Homo sapiens: one gene and its partners. The protein of the gene in region 4 purifies or fractionates together with the protein of the main gene of each other region. This does not show direct contact. Each region holds a gene or a part of one and is shown on either strand. Other genes may lie near its edges. The genes, in order: KANSL2, MTA3, BCL11A and PHF20L1.

The links.
Region 1: the proteins of PHF20L1 (region 4) and KANSL2 purify together in Homo sapiens (affinity purification with mass spectrometry; 2 studies listed by BioGRID and IntAct, with this or other methods). This does not show direct contact.
Region 2: the proteins of PHF20L1 (region 4) and MTA3 purify together in Homo sapiens (affinity purification with mass spectrometry; 2 studies listed by BioGRID and IntAct, with this or other methods). This does not show direct contact.
Region 3: the proteins of PHF20L1 (region 4) and BCL11A purify together in Homo sapiens (affinity purification with mass spectrometry; 2 studies listed by BioGRID and IntAct, with this or other methods). This does not show direct contact.

Annotation. Positions count from the first base shown.
Region 1 is NC_000012.12:48,665,206-48,672,245, reverse strand, and holds part of KANSL2 (KAT8 regulatory NSL complex subunit 2), read left to right. Parts: intron 1-283; coding exon 284-447; intron 448-2,973; coding exon 2,974-3,140; intron 3,141-4,456; coding exon 4,457-4,553; intron 4,554-4,652; exon of another isoform or gene 4,653-4,789; intron 4,790-7,040. UniProt on the Homo sapiens protein: Non-catalytic component of the NSL histone acetyltransferase complex, a multiprotein complex that mediates histone H4 acetylation at 'Lys-5'- and 'Lys-8' (H4K5ac and H4K8ac) at transcription start sites and promotes transcription initiation.
Region 2 is NC_000002.12:42,704,599-42,711,638, forward strand, and holds part of MTA3 (metastasis-associated protein MTA3), read left to right. Parts: intron 1-3,304; coding exon 3,305-3,456; intron 3,457-4,275; coding exon 4,276-4,498; coding exon of another isoform or gene 4,499-4,521; exon of another isoform or gene 4,522-4,946; intron 4,947-7,040. UniProt on the Homo sapiens protein: Acts as a component of the histone deacetylase NuRD complex which participates in the remodeling of chromatin.
Region 3 is NC_000002.12:60,456,671-60,459,671, forward strand, and holds the end of BCL11A (BCL11 transcription factor A), read right to left. Parts: 3' UTR 524-3,001; downstream 1-523. UniProt on the Homo sapiens protein: Transcription factor. Associated with the BAF SWI/SNF chromatin remodeling complex. Binds to the 5'-TGACCA-3' sequence motif in regulatory regions of target genes, including a distal promoter of the HBG1 hemoglobin subunit gamma-1 gene.
Region 4 is NC_000008.11:132,813,386-132,820,425, forward strand, and holds part of PHF20L1 (PHD finger protein 20-like protein 1), read left to right. Parts: intron 1-1,251; coding exon 1,252-1,504; intron 1,505-3,502; coding exon 3,503-3,691; intron 3,692-3,953; coding exon 3,954-4,160; intron 4,161-7,040.

The DNA of each region.
Region 1 (7,040 bases), on a different chromosome or scaffold from region 4:
CCGCATGTTCACTTTCTTTTCAACATAATGCAAATAGCTGGGAAAAATAAGACATTTCTCCTTCCCCCATTTTGGGAAATCACAGATTAGTATTCTTTCTTGGAGATTTTCTCTTTTGTTTTATTTAATAACAACTTGAATGGTACAATGTTTTGCAAAAACATTAAGGTGATTATGTCACCACTTGTTAAATAACAAACTTAGTCTGACATCTCTACTCTTTCAAACTTGGGTTTTATTATTATTGTTTTCTTATGCTTTGCTGAATTCTGTTTTATTCCAGACATGCTGGTGTCTACACAGCAGAAGAAGTGGCCCTGATTATGCGTGAAAAGCTAATTCGTTTGCAGTCGTTGTATATTGATCAGTTTAAACGACTTCAGCATCTGCTCAAGGAGAAGAAGCGCCGATACTTACATAATCGCAAAGTGGAACATGAAGCTCTAGGCAAGTTTTATGCCAGTTCCAACAAGCTGTTGTGGGTTTAACATGTGAATTTGGTAGTACAGTCATGTGTCACTTAATGATGGGGATACATACTTTGTTAGGTGATTTTTGTCATTCAAACTTCATGGAGTGACTCACGCTAACGTAGGTGGTATAGCCTGCAACATACCTAGGCTGCAAACCTGTACAAGCATGTTACTGTACTGAATACTGTGGGCAGTTGTAACAGTGGTATTTGTGTACCTAAACACATCTAAACAGAGAAAAGGTACAGTTAAATTATGGCATAAAAGATTTTAAAAATGGGCACTTAGCATGAATGGAGCTTGTAGGACTGGAAGTTATTTTGGGCGAGTGAGTGAGTGGTGAGTCAATGGGAAGGCCTAGCACATTATTATTTACTACTTTAGACGTTATAAGTACTGTACACTTAAGCTGTACTAAATTTATAAAAAAAGTTTCTTCAATAATAAATTAACCCTTAGCTTACTGTAACTTTTTTACTTTCATTTTTTTTTTTTTTTAATTGAGACGGACATGGAGTCTCACTCTGTTGCCCAGGCTGGAGTGCAGTGGCATGATCTCAGCTCACTGCAACCTCTGCTTCCTAGGTTCAAGCAGTTCTCCCACCTCAGCCTCCCAAGTAGCTGGGATTACAGGCACATTCCACCATGCCCGGCTAATTTTTTTATTTTTAGTAGAGGGGGGGTTTTGCCATGTTGGCCAGGCTGCTCTCGGAACTCCTGACTTCAAGTGATCCCCCTACCTTGGCCTCCCAAAGTGCTGGGATTTCAGGCATGAGCCACTGCGCCTGGCCTATAAGCTTTTTTTTAAAGAGACAGAATCTTGCTGTGTCACTGAGGCCAGAGTGCAGTAGCGTAGTCCTCACTCACTGCAGCCTTCAACTCCTGGACTCAGGCTATCCTGCCTCAGCCTCCTGAGTAACTAGGACTACAGATGCACCACCACACTCAGCTAATTTTTAAATTTTTGTAGAGACAGGGTCTCGCTATGTTGCCCAGGTTAGTCTTGAACTCCTGGGCTCAAGTGATCCTCCGACCGTGGCTTCCCAAAGTGCTGGGATTGATTACAGGCATGAGCCACTGCACCTGGCCTTTATAAACTTAAAAAAATTTTTAAGAAAAACTTCTGGACTCTGTAATAACACTTAGCTTAAAACACAAACACTGTACAGCTGTACAAAAATTTTTTTTATATCCCTATAAGCTTTTCTAGTTTTAATTAAAAAAAAATCCTTTTAAACTTCTGTTAAAAACTAAGATGCAAACACGTACATTAGCCTAGGCCTACATGGGCCTAGTGTCACTGTCTTTCACCTCCACATCTTGTCCCAGTGGAAGGTCTTCGGGGACAATCTCATGCAGCGAACTGTCATCTCATGATAACAATGTCTTCTGCAATACTTTCTGAGAGAACTGCCTGAGGCTGTTTTACATTTAACTTTTTTTTTTTAATAAATAGAGTGGAGTACATTCTAAGGATAAATATAGTAAATATATAAACCAGTAACATAGTTGTTTATTATCGAGTATTAGGTACTGTGCATAATTGTAGGTGCTAGATTTTTTTTTTTTTTTTTGTGATATAGTCTCACTCTGTCGCCAGGCTGGAGTGCAGTGTGTGATCTTGGCTCACTGCAACCTCCACCTCCCGGGTTCAAGCGATTCTCCTGCCTCAGCCTCCTGAGTAACTGGGACTATAGGCGCATGCCACCACGCCCAGCTAATTTTTGTATTTTTAGTAGAGATGGGGTTTCACCATGTTGGCCAGGATGTTCTCAATCTCCTGATCTGGTGATCTGCCCGCCTTGGGCTCCCAAAAAGTGCTGGGATTACAGGTGTGAGCCACTGTGTCCAGCCTGTGCTAGACTTGTATATAACTGGCAGTGCAGTAGGTTTGGTCACCAGCATCACCACAAATGTGTGGGTTGAACTATGATGTCACTAGGCAATAAGAATTTTTCAGCTTTGGCCGGGTGCGGTGGCTCATGCCTGTAATCCCAGCACTTTGGGAGGCCAAGGCAGGCGGATCATGAGGTCAGGAGATCGAGACCACAATGAAACCCTGTCTCTACTAAAAATACAAAAAAAAAATTAGCCGGGCGTGGTGGCGGGCACCTGTAGTCCCAGCTACTCAGGAGGCTGAGGCAGGAGAATGGCGTGAACCTGGGGGGCGGAGCTTGCAGTGAGCCAAGATTGCGCCACTGCACTCCAGCCTGGACAACAGAGCGAGACTGTGCCTCAAAAAAAAAAAAAATTTTTTTTCCAGCTTTGTTATAATCTTATGGGACCACCATAGTATGTATGGTCAATGATTGATTAAAAAGTGGTTATATAGTGCATGACTATAATTAGATTTATTTCTGTCTTGGTACCTGGATTGGGGGTCATTTGCTTTTGAAACTGCCTATCTTATGCCCAAGGATTTTCCTGTTTACTTGTTGACTTGGAGACGTAACCTTGATGGATTGCTTGGCAAATAACATCTTGACTCTTGTAACTCTAGGCAGTAGTCTCCTGACTGGCCCAGAGGGACTTTTGGCCAAAGAACGAGAGAACTTAAAGCGATTAAAATGTCTGCGACGATACCGCCAGCGCTATGGAGTGGAAGCCTTACTGCATAGGCAGTTGAAGGAACGGAGAATGCTGGCCACAGATGGTGCTGCCCAACAGGTAATTTGTGTGTATACCTTTAAGGTATATACGTTCACTTTATTTATTGTTTTTATTTTTTCGAGACGGAGTCTCGCACTGTCACTCGGGCTGGAGTGCAGTGGTGCGATGTCGGCTCACTGAGATCTCTCAACCTCTGCCTCCCAGTTTCAAGCAATTCTCCTGCCTCAGCCTCCCGAGTAGCTGGGATTACAGGTGCCCACCACCATGCGCCCAGCTAATGTTTTTGTATTTTTTGGGGTTTCACTATGTTGGCCAGGCTGGTCTCCAATGCCTGACCTCGTGATCTACCCACCTCGGCCTCCCAAAGTGTTGGGATTGCAGACATGAGCCACCGTGCCTGTTCATGTTCACTTTATTTACAAAGTTAGAGTAATTGTCAAAACACTATGTCCAGTCTTTTTTTGAGACAGAGTTTCAATCTTGTTGCCCAGGCTGGAGTGCAATGGCGCCGTCTTGGCTCACCGCAGCATCCACCTCCTGGGTTCAAGTGATTCTCCTCCCTCAGCCTCCTGAGTAGCTAGGATTACAGGCATGTGCCACCATGTCTGGCTGATTTTGTATTTTTAGTAGAGACGGGGTTTCTCCATGTTGGTCAGGCTGGTCTTGAACTCCCTATGTCCAGTCTTGGATCTGAAATCTGACTTTTTGCACATGGGTTATAGTGAAAGCACTTAGCTTGAAGTCAGGAGACATGGATTCTAGTGTGAGTCCCCACTGACCAGCTCTGTGTCTGCACAGTTAGCTTAAATTTTCTGGGCCTCAGTATTCTCATCTGCATATTGAGTAGTTGGGAAAAGTTTCTAAGTCCTTGGTTCAGATATTCTTCAGTTCAGAAATAAGCACAGGTTAATCCTAAATTGCTTGGGAATCTTGTTTTAAAAGGTGGGAAGGTAGAATAGGAGCAATTGAATGTCAGGAAGTAAGGTTAATAGGAAGAAGAATTAAGTGATCATTCTTAAATTTGTTTTTCAGACCCTTGGTCTCTGTTTCAGTAAGAGTAATTTTGTTTCATTTGTTGAGATTCCACTTAAGGCTGCAATTTCAGAGTTCTGTTGGTAAAAGACAAAATTTGTGTTAAATAGGCTATATCACACTTTTAGAATATGGAGAGGTGTATTTGGGATTGAGGTTGACTCATTCTTTATGCACTAGGTTTTAAAGTTTTTTGTCTTTTGCATAATATTGGTGAATCTATTTTTGTTAAATGTTGAATTTCTAGCCTTTAGGATGTGCTTTTCTTATATAACTATTTTCATCGTAATTGTTTGTGTGTTCTTTTGTGGGTCTATTTTATCTGTCTTTTTCCATTTCAGGCCCATACCACTCGTTCCAGTCAGAGGTGCTTGGCCTTTGTGGATGATGTTCGTTGTTCCAATCAGTCTCTTCCAATGACCAGACACTGCCTTACCCGTATCTTTTTACTCTGCCTGTTAAGGCTGTGGTTTGCTAGTTTGAAGACTAGTGGGAATCTCTGTGCTAGTTTGCTTAATTGAAGGATTTTGTTTTCCTTTGGCCCTGAATCAAGGCCAGCAGTTTGCTGAAGCTGTTGGTTTCAAGCAGGAGCCTAAAGAATTGTCTTTCTATGGTCTGTTGGCCATTTCATAACTTTGGAAATGTAATGGTCAATTCATTAGAAAGAAACATGAGTCGTTTTTCATAGATGTGGGCTAATATTTATTTATAGCCTTAATACTTGGGTCCCAAAATATACATAAAATATTTGTAATTGTCTCAAGGTTTCTGATTTAACTTGCTTATTAGGATCCTAATGCTGTTAAATCTAATTATAAACTTAAAAAATTACTGTGGGTTTTCCACCCCAGTTGAAAGGATGATTTTGCACTGTGAACTTCTAGTATTATCCTTTTGTGTGGTTAGGGCCCTCACTTCTGTATTTTATTTTATTTTTTATTTTTTGGAGATGGAGTTTTGCTCTAGTCTCCCAGGCTGGAGTGCAATGGCGTGATCTCGGCTCACTGCAACCTCCACCTCACTGCACCCTCCGCCTCCCGAGTTCAAGCGATTCTCCGAGTAGCTGGGATTATAGGCACGTACCACAATACCTGGCTAATGTTTGTATTATTAGTAGAGATGGGGTTTCACCATGTTGGCCAGGCTGGTCTCGAGCTCCTGACCTCAGGTGATCCACCCGCCTTGGCTTCCCAGAATGCTGGGATTACAGGAGTAAGCCACTGTGCCCGGCTTTTATTTTTTTATTTGTGTTTTTTGAGACAGGGTCTCACACTGTTATCCAGGCTGGAGTGCAGTGGCTCAGTCATAGCTCACTGCAGCCTTAACTCCTGGGTCAAGCAATTCTCCTACCTCAGCCTTCTGAATAGCTGGGACTATGTATGTGTGCCACCATGCCTGGCTAATTATTTATTTTATTTTATTATTAATTATATTTTTTGAGGCAGAGTCTCGCTGTGTCGCCCAGGCTGGAGTGCAGTGGTGTGATCTCGGCTCACTGCAACTTCCACCTCCTGGGTTCAAGCAATTCTTGTGTGTCATCCTCCTGAGTAGCTGGGATTACAGGCACGTGCCACCACGCCTGGCTAATTTTTGTATTTTTAGTAGAGATGGGGTTTCACCATGTTGGCCAGGTTGGTCTCAAATTCCTGACCTCAAGTGATCTGCCTGCCTCGGCCTCCCAAAGTGTTGGGATTACAGGCATGAGCCACTGCACCTGGCCTATTTTTTTTTTTTTTATTTTTTGTAGAGTCAATTTTCAATATGTTGCCCAGGCTGGTCTCAAACTGCTGGGCTTAAGCAGTCTGCCAGTCCTTTCCTCCCCAAATGCTGGGCTTACAGTCATCAGCCACTGTACCTGGCCTTTATAAACTTAAAAAAGAAACTTGGCTCTTTAAAAAGTTTTCTTTTTTTAATTTTTTTGAGACAGAGTCTTACTCTGTTGCCCAAGTTGGAGTGCAGTGGCATGATGATGGCTTACTGCCGTGATCTGCTGGGCTTAAACGATCTTCCCACCTCAGCCACCAGAGTAGCTGGGACTACAGGCATGTGCTACCACGTCCAGCTAATTTTATTTAATTTTTGTAGAGAGGTTGTGTCACTATGTTTCCCAGGCTGGTCTCGAACTTCTGAGCTCATGTGATCCTCCCGCCTCAGCCTCCCAAAGTGCTAGGATTACAGTTGTGAGCCACCATGCCCAGTCTCTTGACTCTTTTGTGATAACACTTAGTCACTGTGCCTGGCCTCTAACTTGCATACTTTAAACATCATTCAAATTAGAAGTTTGCTATTTCCAAAAATGAGATGCTTTTTTTCTTCTTTTCAATTAATTTGCCTTTGAACCATCATAATGTCTCTTGATTCTGTTAAAGGACTACATTTGGCATTGGGCCTTCAAACTTTTTTGAGTTGTTGATTGAATTGTGAAAGTGCTTATTTATTATAGGCATTGAGAAAAATTTCGCAGTAAAAGCACTTGTTAATTAAATAGGATTGCTGGATTTCATTTGCTTGGCAAGAAATGCCAAATATTTGGAAATTAAAACTTATTTTCTTTATTTGTTTTTTTTGAGACAGAATCTGACTCTGTCACCCAGGCTGGAGTGCAGTACCGTGATCTCAGCTTGCTGCATCCTCCACTCCCCTGGGTACAAGCGATTCTCCTGCCTCAGCCTCCCAAGTAGCTGGGATTGCAGGTGCCTGCCACCGTGCCCAGCTAATTTTTGTATTTTTAGTAGAGATGGGGTTTCACCGTGTTAGCCAGGATGGTCTCGATCTCCTGACCTTGTGATCTGCCTGCCTTGGCCTCCCAAAGTGCTGGGATTACAGGCATGAGCCACAGCGCCCGGCCACTTATTTTCTTTAATAGGGAGAGGAGAAGGAGAACCTCTTCTTAGTCTTTTGACAGGAAGCTGATTTTTATTTTGC
Region 2 (7,040 bases), on a different chromosome or scaffold from region 4:
TAGAGTCATATTAGCTTTGCAGAAACTGTGTTCCCATGATGCATACCAAATTCCCCTTTGGAGTTTCTCAGTATACTTTGACAAATTAAAGCTCCAAGTAATTCTGTAGGAAAGGCCTCTGTGTGGATAAGCTGCTGTATATAATCCTCAGACCATGTTCCCTCAGTGCACCAGTTTGGGAAATGCTCTTCTATGATACTTGCTTTTGGCCTCAGGATCCCACTGTATTTATCTATGGTGGCAGTATTTTATTTGCCCAGGGTGTTAAATGGGGTCGGTGAAGTGAACCGTTAGGTAGTTGATAGACTTTGTGTGTTTATTTTAAATCTCAAGCAAGGATACAATATCTTAATGGGGCATTGGTGATATTATCATCTATGTTTCCTTCCAGTTAAGGTAGCCTGGGATGGGAGAGGGAAGGAAACGAATGTTTATTGAAAACCTACTTGGTGCCCCATTTTGGGTTCTTAGTAGCTCTTTGAGAGTACATGTAGCCTACTGCCTTCAGGAAGGATATAGGAATGAGGGACGGCTGTGAGTACGATTACGTCGATTGATCCCAAGGAAGGTGTGAGCCAAGTTGCTGAATTTGTAGAAATGGTACATGGGGATGTGTTTAACCATTTTTTTGCAGCATGGGAGCACAAAGGGAAACAATTTGTGGAAAATTAAGATTTTTTAGGTCAGGCTTTTACATGGATAGCATCATAAATACCTTGAATTGGGAATTCTTGGATTTTGTAGTTCATGTATATTCAAATGAAAATGAAAAGAATCCTGCAGACAAGTGGTAGTGGCTTAACCTGTCTTGATTTTAACTTGCAGGCAGGGTGCTGTGGCTCATGCCTGTAATCCCAGCACTTTGGGAGGCTGAGGCGGGTGAATCACCTGAGGTCAGGAGTTCGAGACCAGCCTGGCCAACATGGTGAAACCCCGTCTCTACTAAAAATACCAAAAATTAGCCAGGCATGGTGGCATGCACCTGTAATCCCAGCTACTCAGGAGGCTGAGGCAGGAGAATAGCTTGAACCCAGGAGGCAGAGGTTGCAGTGAGCTGAGATTGCACCATTGCACTCCAACCTGGGTGACAGAGTGAAACATCGTCTCCCCCCCGCCCCCAAAAAAAAAATTAACTTGCAAACCCCTTTCACACTCACGTATATCCCCTTAAATGATTATTCTGTTATTTTTATGTGTGCATGATGAATAAGCTATTTTTATTTTATAATATTTACTTTAGACTCATGTATTACTAATCTCCATGATAAAATGTTATCTTAATATAAGATTTATCCTTACAGAGAGATAGAACTTGATGTTTTCTATTTATTAAATGATACCTACTTTCCAATTGAATTTGAGTTATTTAAGGAGAAAGGCATTTATTGACAATTATTAAAATGATTTGCATGATTAGTTTACGTAAAATGTATGTTTTAAGTGAAATTTTATATTTAGAATTCAAAATAGATTCATAGCTTAATGTTTAAGATTTTGAAGGGGAACATCACATCTGGGGACTGCTGTGGGGTGGGGGGAGCAGGGAGGGATAGCTTTAGGAGATATACCTAATGCTAAATGACGAGTTAATGGGTGCAGCACCCCAGCATGGCACATGTATACATATGTAACTAACCTGCACATTGTGCACATGTACCCTAAAACTTAAGGTATAATAATAATAAAATAAAAAATTTAAAAAATGACTTATTAGTTCTAAATTATAGGAGGAAAGGCTTTTAGGCTTTCATTTGTATAAAATAGTTATTTGTATAAATGAAAGCCTAAAATAGGCCTAAAATATTTACACAAATAAAAGCCTAAAATAATAATCCTCCAAAAATAATACATGATGGGTGTACAGTGTTATTCCCGATAAACATGAATATAATGGTCTCTGTATTTTCTCTTTTTCACATTGGTTTGTGAAGTGTTAGTTGATATCTTCATGTGCTGTTTGAACATTTGAAGGTAACTTACAGGTCAGAGAAATAATATTTTAAGGCAAACTTACAGAATTACAATTTTTTATGCACCCAATTAACTTATGTCTCAACCTCAATGTTTTCTCTTAAACTTCAGATCTATCACACATGTATTTTAAATGTCACATGTCAGTAATTTAAACTACAAAACAAAAACTAACACAAGCTTACAGTGTTCAGCTAGCTGTTAAATCATCTGAGTTTTAGGCCTCAAGCATGCTGTGATGTCAGCTGCCCATGCTCACTTCATATGGATTTAGAGTCTTGAAAGGGATTCTGTCTGTAAATGGAGATTTTAAAATAAGGATTTTACTTATTGATTAAAATAAAGGAGTGCAAAACAGATACCTGTTTGTTTCTTCTCTCCTCCCCTACTCCCTCCCTCTTCCCCTCCCCAGCCCCCTCCTCCTCCCCGCTTCCCTCTGTAACCCAGGCTGGAATGCAGTGGTGCAATCACAGTGGCCTCAACCTCCCAGGCTCAAGCAGTCCTGCTGCCTCAGTCTCTGTAGTCGCTGGGACTACAGGGGTTCACCACCACACCTGGCTGACAGATACCTGTTTTTATTAGATTCCTGACTTTATCAATGAGACCTCCCTGAGTACCTTAAATAATCCTTGGAGTGGTGTCTGAACCCTGGGTTTGGAAACGTGGATTTAGATTTTTTTTTTTTTTCTTTTGAGATGGAGCCTCACTCTGTCGCCCAGGCTGGAGTGCAGTGGCGTGATCTCAGCTCACTGTAACCTCTGCCTCCCACATTCAAGCAATTCTACTGCCTCAGCCTACCGAGTAGCTAGGACTACAGGTGCGTGCCACCATGCCTGGCTAATTTTTTTTGTGTGTTTTCAGTAGAGACGGGGTTTCACCGTGTTAGCCAGGATGGTCTTGATCTCCTGACCTCATGGTCCGCCTGCCTCAACCTCCCAAAGTGCTGGGATTACAGGCGTGAGCCACCATGTCCGGCCCCAGATTTTTTAAATACTACCATCTTTTTGAGAACCTATTTCCAGAAACATACACAATAGAGTATTTTTAATCAACAAAACAAAAACTCCCTCAGCAGCACAATGCATAATACAGGATGCTTCACTGAATAGCTTTAACAGGGCCACAAGCACTTTATATAATAATGGAAATAAGTTGGTTTAATGAATTCTGAGTATTAAAAAAACAAATATACTATTATGTTTGGCTTGTAAGCTGGGAACAATAACATTGTAAACTAAGCATGACAAGTATTTTTAAAATGTTTGATTATTTTGTGTTGATGTTACAAATTAAATAGCATTTTTCGTTTTTTCTTATTTTTCTTCTGCTTTAGCTACACAGTCTCACCAGTGGTATTCTTGGGGCCCACCTAATATGCAGTGTAGATTATGTGCAATTTGTTGGCTTTATTGGAAAAAATATGGAGGCTTGAAAATGCCCACCCAGTCAGAAGAAGAGAAGTTATCTCCTAGCCCAACTACAGAGGTACAGTAGTCTTTTTAGTGTTGAAAAATGGCATGTTTTTAAATGGGTTGATTATTCCTTGGAAACAGAAGTACAGTATAGGATAATTAAAAAATGAAGAAAGCTACCTTTATAGCTAAACGTAGCACTACAATATTCAGGGTAGGTGTGGAGAGAAGCAGAGAGAAATTAAATTTTATCAGGTATTCAGAATAATGGTCTCAGACAAAAAAACAATGAGTGTGGGAGATGTTAGCATAAGTAGAGAGCTTACAAATTAAATGTTTAATTGCTTTTGAAAACAGTTCGTAACCTTTACATTCTGTTGAAGGCGTGTCTTACTACATAAAGTCATAAATGCAAATTAAGCATTTTTTCTCCCCGTGGCTGTTTTGGAGGGACAAGAAGTATGGACTTAATCTTGAGGTGAACAACAGTTTAAATGTGATTTTGGTAAAATCCTCATAGGCTGAAGATGCCAAACGCCTGTGTTTACCAGTGGGCGACTACCCTTTTTCAGTGCTGACGGGCTTTCAGGACTCCTTAATTTAAAAAAAAGTGTAGTTAACCCCCTTGGCAGTTTCATACCACTTACTGTGAATGTGATTTTGGATTCCTGTATAGCAGTACAGTATTCTCCACAGTTCCCTTCTCTACTCCCCACCTCTTTCCCAAAAGTGCACACTTTAATTCTCTCTTTTAGAGGTAGTGCACCAAGTGACGTTATAGATGCTTCATGAAAGATTTAAAAGTTGCACTTTTCTTTTGAGCATGATGCAAACAGTAACGTGTTTGGGCAAGTTCACTTCCTTGAGTGTTTGTTGTTTTCTGATTTTGCAGGACCCTCGTGTTAGAAGTCACGTGTCCCGCCAGGCCATGCAGGGAATGCCAGTCCGAAACACTGGGAGTCCAAAGTCTGCAGTGAAGACCCGCCAAGCTTTCTTCCTTCATACTACATATTTCACAAAATTTGCTCGTCAGGTCTGCAAAAATACCCTCCGGCTGCGGCAGGCAGCAAGACGGCCGTTTGTTGCTATTAATTATGCTGCCATTAGGGCAGAATGTAAGATGCTTTTAAATTCTTAACCTTATATGTTGTGCTTCTGACCATTTTCTCTTTTCCTCTCTTTCCTTTTTTTTTTGTTTGTTTGTTTGCAATAAACATAAGTTCTTGTGTACAGCCTTTTATTTGGTTTATTTTTTAACATTGTTTTTGTGTGCTGCCATTTGTATCATGCCAACCTGGAAAAAAAAAATCAAAACATTGAAACTTCTGTACTCTTTACCAGAGAGTAGTGCTTAGCAAAAGATTGGTGGGAGGTGATCCTATTCCATGGGGTTTTGTGATGGAATTGCCTGCAGAGCCCTTATTGAAGCACTTTTACCTTTTAGGTAGTGCCACAATGTAACCCCTAAGGATGCTGTTATAATGAGACTCCATAATCGAGACAGTACAGTCCAGTCTTACATGGATTCATTAGGTTTAAATAAAATTTGCCAATTTACACTAATTAGAGACTGTATGTCTTTGTAAACCTCTCGTTTTTCTCATGAACCTTTTACAATTGTCATACAACATTATGGAAATTCACCCTTGATTCATAACAAATACTATATTTATTAGAAGGTCTAGCAAATTACAAGTAAATTTTAAACTCATTTTTGGGTGAGTTTTCTGAAATTACACATTGCATTTTCATAAGCTAGCATCTAAACATATGGTTGAGCAGCCTGTTTGTCCAGTTTGGTTTCCATTTCATGATCATGTATCATATATATCACCACATAACATTTACATGACTTACTACTCTTATTTTCAACACATTTGGTCTTGCTTATCTTTTTTATTTTTATTTTTGTTAGCACAGAGATCATATGTGTCCATGAATTGTGGATCGTTTTGTCATTACCATGTCTCTGACAATATGTGTATAATTAATATGTTAGCTCTGGAGTCACATTCCAGGCTAGCATGTTAGAGCCGTGCAGCTTTTGTTCCTTAAGGGGTGACAAAACTTGCTGTCTGGCCTAACAGATAGGAAATCCTAAAGCCATTCTAAGAAATCTCTTACTATGAAATGTTCCCCTTTGATTTAAAGAGGATATCAATAAAAGGAATGATGACTGAAAAAAACATTTTTTGTTCCTAAAGATAATTTTTAGCAGAATAGTTGAAAGGCTTTAAAACTTAAGTAGCAGCTCTATAAGAAGAAAAATGCTTTGTAAAGGGAGTTGAGGGCTGGGCGCGGTGGCTCATGCTTGTAATCCCAGTACTTTGGGAGGCCGAGGTGGGTGGATCACCTGAGGTCAGGAGTTCGAGACCAGCCTGGTCAACATGGTGAAACTGTCTCTACTAAATATACAAAAATTAGCCAGGCGTGGTGGCAGGCGCCTGTAATCCCAGCTACTCAGGAGGCCAAGGCAGGAGAATTGCTTTAAACCGGGAGGCAGAGGTTGCAGTGAGCTGAGATTGCGCCATTGCGCTCCAGCCTGGGCAATGAGCGAAACTTCATCTCAAAAAAAAAAAAAAAAAAAAAAAAAGAAAGTGGTAGCAATGTCAGAGTCCCACAGAAGGGGGATTACTATATTAGATTCATGTATATTTGAGAGTTTAGGCTTATATTTAGGTTTTGTGCTAGCATTTGAGACCTCATGGACTTACGTTACCACTTTCCCATTTTGGGAATTAGAAATATTTATAGTCTAAATTGTTCAGCTCATTTAAAACACATTTTCATGTAATTTTTTAAATAAAATGGTGAAGACCAGTCACGGTGGCTTACGCCTGTAATCCTAGCACTTTGGGAGGCCGAAGTGGGCAGATCACCTGAGGTCAGGAGTTAGAGACTAGCCTGGCCAACATGGTGAAGCCTCATCTCTACTAAAAATTCAAAAATTAGCCAGGCATGGTGGCACACGCCTGTAATCCCAGCTGCTTGGAAGGCTGAGGCAAGAGAATCACTTGAACCTGGGAGGCAGAGGTTGCAGTGAGCTGAGATCATGCCACCGCACTCCAGCCTGGGCAACACAGACTCCGCATTAAAAAATAAATAAATAAATAAAAATTAAAAAGTAAAACATTTAAGAATGAAAATGAATGAGACTTTTCCATTAAGATTGGTGGGGATCCAGTATCATCTTTGTCCTAGGACTAGAAGAGAAACCATCAGCAACTCAGTTGGCTGCTGAGGAAACTCTGTTTCCCCAGGGCTTGTGTGTTAATTTTCAGTTAATTTGCACATTATCTTTGTTTTGATTATTCTTCAATGAAGTATATTTTTCTTTTATCTCGTTCTAATTTTTTTCTCAATTGACGGGCCATGCTGCTAAAAGGGATCATAATTAAGTTACCTGTATTTTATTTCTATAAGCATATAGATTATAGTAATCATAAAAGAGCAGTCGTCTATCTGGATGAAATTCAGAGAGCATGTATTATTTTGTTTTGTATTTAGCTTCACTGGTCATTGAGTTGTACATAATCAGATTCTTAAATAATTTTACCTTGAGATTTAAAATGACAGTGTTTCAGCAGCCGTCTACTCTTTTTTATTTTTCAGACAAGCAATGAACTTTTCCTAACATCTAATTGATTATGCTATCAT
Region 3 (3,001 bases), on a different chromosome or scaffold from region 4:
TTTGTTTCCAGATTTTTAGATTTCAAAAGTGGGGTTATTTTGTTATGAGAAAAGACTCTTACATGGAAACCAAAGAGCTGATTTTTTTTAAAAAAATCTTTTTTACATTATGTTCTAAGATAAAGCAAGGATGGGAGAATAGAAAAGAACTTTTAGACAACAAGAACAGCAAAAAATTTAAAGGAAATAAAAGTTTAAGATGCTATTACCAGCAAGTTTTTTCACTTATGTTTGAATGGATTTCTGCTAAGAGATGGAGTAAGTTTTTAACATCAGACTGAAAACACCTTCCATTTCTTGAAAACTATTCTAAACTGGAAAGCCTTAAAACTATGTCCAGGGTTTGAGATATGTCTATTTTAATATAGTAAGTACTTTATGTTCCTTTAGGGTATAATACACGCATCAGAATGCCCATAGAAATAATCCTGAAAAAGACTGACTGGCCTTCTCTTAAAACCTGTTATTTTCTTGCAAGTAATTTACAGAGTGTGTCAAATGAGGACACAAGAAGCTTACAATGTGTACTTTAATTTTTTTTATTTTTTCAATAAAGGGACAAAATGGGTGTATGAACAGGTTAATGCAGACAACTGCCAAAAAAACACAGACAGTGGTTTTTCCAATAGAACTTAACAAAGACCAGAAACAAATACAATAAAAAGCCAGGTTGTAATGACCTTTGGTCATCTAAATAAAAAAAAAAATAAAAACAAAGAAAAATAAAAGATCAAATTAAGTGCCTCTGTTTTGAACAGGGCACATAAGCAATAATAAATAGTGACTCCCATAGTAAAAGATAAAATTTCAAGTTACGACAAACAGCTTTCATTACAGGAATAGAAAAGGCCAATAACAAAATATTCTGCATTGCCATTTACAAAAAAGTATTGACTAAAGCGGGCTTTCTCTTTAATATGCTTTGCATATGAAATTCTTTCCAATCTAAATATAAAGCACCATTTAGTTTTTGGCAATGAAAAAAACTGCAAAACATTGGTTTTTTTTTTTTTTTCCTTTTTTTTTCTTTCTTTCTTTTACTGCATATGAAGGTAAGATGCTGGAATGTAGGGTGATAGAAGGAAAGGGACAAAAAGCACACTACATAACAAACCAACGTTATTAGCTTGCAGTACTGCATACAGTATGGCAGCAGGAAAAAGGAACAAAAAAGGATATGTACAACCCCTATGACAGCCATCCATGTGACATTCTAGCAGGCTCCCCCAAACCGCCATTATATGGCTTCTCATCTGTAATGTCACACTTTTTTGTTTCTCTCTTTTTTTTTTTTTTGAAGCATACAAATAATTTGCACTATATTATCCTGCCAAATTAAAAAAATATACTGTGGCAGCCTGTCTTTTTTTTTTCCACTACCAAAAAAGGTACATTGATACCTTTTAAGAGAACAAGCAACAGTTAAAAATACAAGCTTCAATATAAATACTATAGTGCCTAACACTAGATGAACATTTAATTCAAATACCATTCTAGAAATACAGAAAAAAGACCATAAATGTATTTTAGCATAGGAATCAACATGAGTGTGCATTTTCCTATATTTAAGTACTATATAATCTTAAACCTTTCCCCAATGTATGTTTTTTTTTTTTACAACCTGAAGAGCGGTGTGTATCCAAGGCATAGAATTTCCACTACCATTTTTAAATGGATAACAAGTCTTGTAACACCACCAAGACAATGGAACCCTAAAATGCAGTTCCCCCCTAAACATAATGAAGTGTTTTTTAAAAAAAATTTTTCTTAACATTTATATTTAAAAAAGTTTTGTACAAAAAAATCCTTGCACTGTAGAAGCGAAAGCAATCATTCATTTCTATGTTAAGTGTATTCTGTTTCCATTCACAGCGCTTGCAATGTTGCGTCCAAGTAAGTAAGCTCAATAGTCAAGTAAATGGCTGGCAAAGTTTTTTTTTTTTTAGTTTTTAAAAAATGCTCCTCAATGAGATTGTGTTCAATTTTTTTTCAGCATTCTTGCAACTTTTCCCTTAAGTATAGACCTGTAAACTGGGAAAATTGTACAGTGCACTTAATTGTCCTATCTGAGCAGGTTTATTTTATACTCAACCTCTGTATCTCTGATTAGAGAAAAGATACAGATATCACAGGCAGAGTCAAGTGCTATTTGAACACCAACTGGGGCAGATGCTAGCTTAATAAAAAAGAAAAAATTAAAAAAATAAAAATAAAAACAATGAATCCTCTTCCATGTTAACACAAATAGCACACAGTGTATGGAAAAGAAATGAAGTACAACTTTTAGGGAGCACAGACATATATACTGCTACTCTTAAAATTCTTTCTCTTCTTTTTTTAAGAATGTCACATTTAAATGCAAGTCTTAAGAATTCATAGTTAATCATCATTGTATCAATATTAGCTTATATACCTGTTCTAGTTTTAAATGGCAAATAGTACCACGTTGTGCTAATAAATCATATTATTTTCTTCTGTTCCCCTCTGTCAAACCTTATTGTCAGCCTCTTCCTTTCAATATGGTATACAAGGTCTTAAAGTTTATCATTTGATTGTCCACTTGACAACCAAGTAGATCTGGATCTATTTCTTTTGGTGCCAGTATTTTTAAAAAGACATTATTAAAGCAAATATCTTCATAAAATGAACTCCTTACTAGTGTATTTAATTGCGTTCCAGGGCTTTTGCACATTACACATTCAATTTAATCATTGTTTAAAAAAAATAAAACTTTGGGCAAAACAGCCCATTTCTTTTAAGCTCTCACCAGGAGCAAAGTAGCTTTTATACTGGTATAATCAGTTTTGTTTATAAAATTAAACTAAAGGAAAAATGATGATTAACTAGGACATAATGGGTCATCTTTTTAGGTAGCCATTGTTGTGAGAAATACAATATAGAATTATATGCTAGTTCCTAAGGTTTATTACCTCACCCAATGCTGAATTAAGCTACAAGTTTATAACAAGTAGAAAGAACCATCGATGTGGTTTTAATAGAT
Region 4 (7,040 bases):
GCTGTCTATAGAGCATTGAAGGTGCCCTACTTAATACCAAATATGCACTTTTCTTCCCCAGCAAAATTTGACTTGTATCTCAGTGGGAACAGAATTATTTATTTATTTAGTCCCCAGAAAATGATCGTTCATATTCCAGAGAACTGCAGACAGCAGACCTGATAGTTATTCTCCACAAGATATGGAAGTAAAAAGATTTCTTGGGGACAAGCATGTTGTTTATAGTGCTAGCAGTCTGATTCTTTATAAAGGCCTATGGTAGAATAGATTTTCAAAAAATGCATATTATATATTTTGCTCTCAGATAAGTATATCAGAAAGAGATAGAAGTATTGCAGAACCATAGATTGCAAATTCATCCAATGTAGTTATTTTCTCTTGTTTTGAAAAATGGACACATTCACACATATTTTAACATATGTAGGAAATTTTACAGCCAAATGAATAAAAATGATCTTTTATGAAAGAACTGACAAAGTTCTAATTTTTTTTTAAAAGTATCAGTTGGCAGGAAGAAGGTAAAAACTCTCATCTAAGAATGCGACGTATTTTGTTTTTAAATCCAATGTTTTTAACTTACACTTTATCTCTTTGGTTTTTTTTTTGTTGTTGTTGCTTGTTTTGTATTGTTTTTTAGTCTTTTAACTCTATATTGCTGGTGGCTCTGATTTCATGATGCATTGTGCTTATGAAACTCTAGCTTTCAGCACTAAAATGAGTTAAAGATAATGTTTTGTTAATTTGGTCATTGTTTTTCCTGTTCAGATCTTTCTTTAAAGGGAATCTGTCTACTTAGACCTTTACATTCAACTTAAAAGAAAAGATTTTATAAGAAAACATCTAAAATCAAAAGCTTAAATGTATTCCTCTAATCCTTTAAAACATGAAAATGCTGTTTATTTTTCGAATTATTGTCATTGGCAATTATGGTTCCTAAAGGGGTATATTTCTATTTAATACTGAAAATATTTGTCCAGTAAGATAACATTTTATGTTCCGAAAATATTATGAATAATATATTTTAAAAAATGAATTTAGACTGAAAGTTGACAGCATCCCTTTAAAGACAGCCTATTCAACTTTTAGTTAATAATTTGTGGGGTTCTTTTTGGTTTTTCATTTGTAATAGAAATGTTATATGTTGCTTAACAATGTTTCTGGATACTAAAGTTGCTTAACAGTCAAAATAGAATACAAGAACAAAAATGAAGAAGCCAAAATAAAAATATCAATTTTTTATTATTTATTCAGGCGATTTCACCTAAACCTCAAAGTCAGAAAAAAAATGAAGCTGACATTAGCAGTTCTGCCAACACTCAGAAACCTGCACTGTTATCCTCAACTTTGTCTTCAGGGAAGGCTCGCAGCAAGAAATGCAAACATGAATCTGGAGATTCTTCTGGGTGTATAAAACCCCCTAAATCACCACTTTCCCCAGAATTAATACAAGTCGAGGATTTGACGCTTGTATCTCAGCTTTCTTCTTCAGTGATAAATAAAACTAGTGAGCACAGATTTTTAAAAAATAGTTATTTATCCTATAAGATACATTAAAAACAGTTTGATTGTAGTTATATTGTATTTTTATGAAGTTGCTTTTTAAAAACTCAAGTGGATATGATAGGGAAGGCTTGAAACTATTTCAGGGGCAAAAACCATAGACATTTCTTACTGATTTATTGCTTAGAGACTACTGCTGGTTGAGAATCCTTTCCATTTAATAACACAGATTCCACTGTAGTTTGACTCTCCTCAACTCATAATCCAAGCATACTGAGAGGCCTGATTCATTACAAAAAAAAAAAGTTATAAAAAGACCCAGGATAGCTATTTTTACTTAAGACTATTCCTGTAGATTTTTTGTCCCCACTTGTCTATAACTTTCCTCTGCAATACATTTTATTCATTCTTATTATAATATTTATAGTCTAGACTTCAGTTTAATCTTTTTAATGAAAAAAAAATGCCCCCATGATTGTATTTTTAAAGATTTTACTGTTTCAGTACTTCTAATTTTTCAAGAGTTAACGCAGTCTTTTTCGAAAACACCTTTCACATGGGTATATCTATCTATCTCCCTATATATCTGTATATATAAATAATACAAGATTTGTGTTGACCCTGAGTTTCTCATATTAGTTTAGTATCCTAAGTTGGAGACATGAATAACAGTTATTTGAAAAGTCAGTTGGTAAATGATGGTTTTTTTTGCTCTTTATGCAAAAAATGAAATACATGATCAGTTGAGTGAATATGACATGTTTCCTTATTCCATATTGTGTCTTCCAGAATAATCAAAGATGTTGGCATTCAGAAGACTTTTATCAAACTTATTAACCTATTTTCCTTCAGTTGCCATATTTTCTACTGAATCATTTTTTCATTTTGATCAGGTTTTGCTTTTTCTTTTTAATAGGTGGAAAGAATGGGAACATAATTCAATTGTTTTCCTAATAAGCTTCATTTCATTATGGCATTTATCATGAAATAGTGTCAGTAGTAGTCACTGGAATGTCATATGACATTAATAAACATTTTATTTTGGAAATTATATCTTGGTATTATAACCACAATATTATAGCAATTAAATTTTATTCTTTCATATTTTTAAGTTATCAGCATGTCTTTTTCGTTTTGATTGTAAAATTACTCTTAAATACCCAAACATCAATGTCTTTAGACTGTTCTTATTTCCTCTTTCTAAATTAACATGAATATATTGGCATATATAATCTTGCCTATTCTAGTCAAATGTGTTTGTATGCCATGTAGAAAGAAGATATCTAAAAGTGTGAGAGACATTTCCAAATATTTATATTATATTGCTAGAAGATGCCTAAATTACTTACCAAGTTGTTAAAAAACACAAGTACACAATGTCATAATCTTAAATATCCTCATTATTTGCTCACAATAAGTATACAAAGTTGTTTTTGTTCATTTTTTTTTTTTAATGAATCAGGCCCAGACATGTTTATAAAACTCCATTTGGGGGGGATGATGATGGGATAAAATTATTTACATTAGTGTAAAGTAAATCACTAACTCTATAATGTTGTATCATCTTTGTCCCTGCCTTTTTTTCCCTTAGAGTTTCTAGATTTGCAATGTAGCAAAAGGAATACATATATATATATTTTTCCTTATCTTTTGCTGTAAAGAGACTATTTTCCCGAAGGAAAAATGGCAATTTACACAACGATCTGCAATTAGAGAAATTAACTGTAGTCTGTCACTTGGGGGAGCTACTTGAAATTAATGTTCCATTTTATTTTCTTTTAGTTCTAGTAGAGTGTAGATTTTACAATTTTTGATTGACTCATTTTGAATGAGGGCACAATTTTTGCCTTTGATTACCTTTGGAACATGCCATTCCTTGTGGATATCTTATAACAACATCAGAGGGAAGAATATAAATCATTTTTTCCCATTTATCTCCTTAAATATTGTAAGATGCTCCTGGTATGTATCTGCTTCGTGAACATTGAAGATCTTTTTCTAGGTCCTCCACAGCCTGTGAATCCCCCTAGACCTTTCAAGCATAGTGAGCGGAGAAGAAGATCTCAGCGTTTAGCCACCTTACCCATGCCTGATGATTCTGTAGAAAAGGTTTCTTCTCCCTCTCCAGCCACTGATGGGAAAGTATTCTCCATCAGTTCTCAAAATCAGCAAGAATCTTCAGTACCAGAGGGTAATGTATATTGATTTCCTATAGAACCAAACATAAAAGAAGATAAAGAAAAAACTAAGAGATAAAGATTATTAAAATATTAAGATATTTCTGCTCTTATATCTTCTGGAGTTATAAGCACTTCACTTATTCTACAAATATTTATTGAGTGCCTTCTTTGTGCCAGGCACTGTTTAAATTATGTAACACTTTAATTCACAGTGATAGTAACTGAGCCATTTTATCTGTGTTAATATTACATTACACTCTTTATTTTGTGTAGTGCCTGATGTTGCACATTTGCCACTTGAGAAGCTGGGACCCTGTCTCCCTCTTGACTTAAGTCGTGGTTCAGAAGTTACAGCACCGGTAGCCTCAGATTCCTCTTACCGTAATGAATGTCCCAGGGCAGAAAAAGAGGATACACAGATGCTTCCAAATCCTTCTTCCAAAGCAATAGCTGATGGAAGAGGAGCTCCAGCAGCAGCAGGTAAAAGAAAAAAAATAAAGGCTCCTATAAGTAGATAAGTAGCTAGGCTTGCAGTTATTAGGTATAAACATTTTGAGGTTTAACTACATTATTTTGATTCCTATATAATTCCTTTTCATAAATACTTTAACATTTATAGGAGAGTTTCATCTCCGTTTTAAAGGTCTTTTGTGTGATCATTTTACAATCATATTCCCTGGACATACATGCTGCTTAACCTTGTCACTTGATCTATTTCCTTCTCCCTGCTTCTTTTTTATATATCCTTATTTCTACTAAATATAAATTATTAGAGCCAAGTATAGTTACAGGAATTCTTACTTTTGAAGCTGGGAAATACTTAATGGGATCAGTACTTTGGTTTAAGGATTTTGATAGAATTTAATATTTAAGAAACACTGAGCTATATGCCTGTATCTTAAATATAATTCCATATTTTGGGGCAGAATCCTCCAAATTGAATTAAATTTGCTGTAAAGTTATTTGAGGAGTGCAATATGTAAAATCAGCCATCCTTAATAACACATTTTTTGCATGATTTTGTGATATTTATTGTAGTTCGAAAGCATTTGGATGTGTATTTTACCAAGCTGATATTTTAAATCTAATAATATCTATTCATGTTTCCCTTATGTGGGTGCATTGTTTTATTTAGAAGTTTTTAAGAATTATAACCTGATCTAGAATACACATAAAATAAAAAGGCCAATACTAGTTACAAATGCACTTCTGGTAAATTACTGTTGGAACTAGATGTTTGAAGGAAGTCTGAATTTAGTTTGTTGTGAGTTGGAGAAAAACATAAGGCAGTTTGTTGATTCGTTACCAAGGGTGTTGGTGATCATTGTGTTTACAGGCGTCTTCCCTGAAACCATTTTATCCATTTTTTGGATGAAGCATAAAATGAAACTTATTCTTTTCTGGTGATGGCATGTATTGAAATAAAATGATTGAAGTAACATAAGAGACATATACTTATTTTTATTAATTTTTATCTTTATATAAAGGTTGAAGTTACTTTGTACATGATAATTCTTTATCATGTTTAAAAAAATAAAACAATACCCAAATGTGAATATTTGTAGATTTTGAAACATTTCCTGTAGTTTCTCAAATCAGATCTATTGTCTTTTGACTCTTGGTCTTTCCTTAAGATAATTAATTTTTCTTTTCCACTTTTCCACAAGATTTCCAAATTGTCATTGACCCATTGAGATACTTTTTTGATAAAGGTCTTATTCGGTTCTTTAACGATCTGGAATTTGTTACCGTACTGAATATATGAAAAATATGTTAAAGTTATAAGGTTGTATATACATTGGGAAAATTATTTTCAAATGTACATGTGAAAATATTTACATTTTTCTTTAAAAGTATTCTAATATTTGTAACAATATTGAAATATAGGCCAATATAAGTAACTGTGTAATAACTAAGAGTCTTACATTAACAGATTATATATCATAAAATATCAATGTAGTGATTGTGCATGGAAGTCCTTGACTTCGATGATTTTGCTTCTAACCAGATTATTAACTTCCTCTTTTCAGAATTTCTAGCATATTTGTGGCAATGTGGCTGACTACCTTAGAGGAAGGCACACGAATATTCTTTCCCTTTTTAAATATTAGCAGTAACTATTGGAAAAGTAAAATAAGTAAGATCGTTTTCTGGGAAAGTAAAAGGTAGAGAGGAGTTTAGCTATAATTTGAATTTGTGGAAGAGTAAGGATTATCTGGATATGATGAGCTTAATAGTACAGTAGCTGTCAACTTTAATTGATTATAGCAAGGAAATGCATAGTTTTAATTGTTAATTACTGAAGATTTATTAGAGGGTTGAACACAGTATTTGAATAGAGGGAGGTGAAATTCTCATTTGTTTCTGTGACCTCTTAATTTTTAGTTTTTGAGGAAAGTAGTGCAATTTAGGTCATGTTCTGACTGAACACCTTTTGATTACAACCTTGTGTGCCTGTCCCACGTGCATTGAAATTCTCGGTGGTCTCTATGCTTTTCTCCTTAACCTTTTTGTTATTCACCCTCTCTTGACTATTTTGCAGTATTTGTTATGCTTCTGTCTGTTCCCCAAGTCCTTTTACATCTAGAGCCAAAGTGCCAGGTTTTTATGTTTTTATTTCTCTGATACATATGTACATATATGCACATACTCATACACACATGTATGTTTTGTTGGTGTCCATATTATAAAAGTAAATTTTCTTACTGTTGAATTTTAAAACTGATAATTGAAAACATTCTTTACAGTTCGTCAGAGACATTTTCTGAGTTATTTTTGTCAAATTGAAACTCTTGGGGAGTTTAGAATGATGAGGGTGTTAGTTGCTAACTGTGAAATTGTTCAACATGGTTAGGTTTTTACTTTTGGGGGAGCAAGATAAATTCACACTGTTGAGTTTAGCATTTGATGCTGAAGGATTGATGAGATTTGCAGATAGTCCAATTATTATATACAACTTTTCTTAATTGTTTTCCAATAGAGATAATGAACTTGCAATAATCTCTCGTATGTTCTTCTGCTGGGGTGGATGCCCACATGTCTAGCCACTGTTAAGAATGCTATTGCTGCCTACATTACCAAACAAGTAATTGGTATCTTTGTAAAAATTGATGCCTTTGTTTTTATTTTACTATCAGGATGCTTTGTCACAGAGCCAGCCAATTTTAGATAAGGATACAGCCTCAGAAAATCTTAATTCTGTTAGTATCTGGGAGGATAGAGTAAATCAAGTTTTTTGAAAAGGGGTCTTTTGAAAAATACTCTTGGTTCAGGTTCTCACAGGCACCTTGGGCCAACAGTTATCTATTGCCCCTTGTCAACACAATTCTCTTTAGGTGGGAAGCACAGTGTGAACAGATG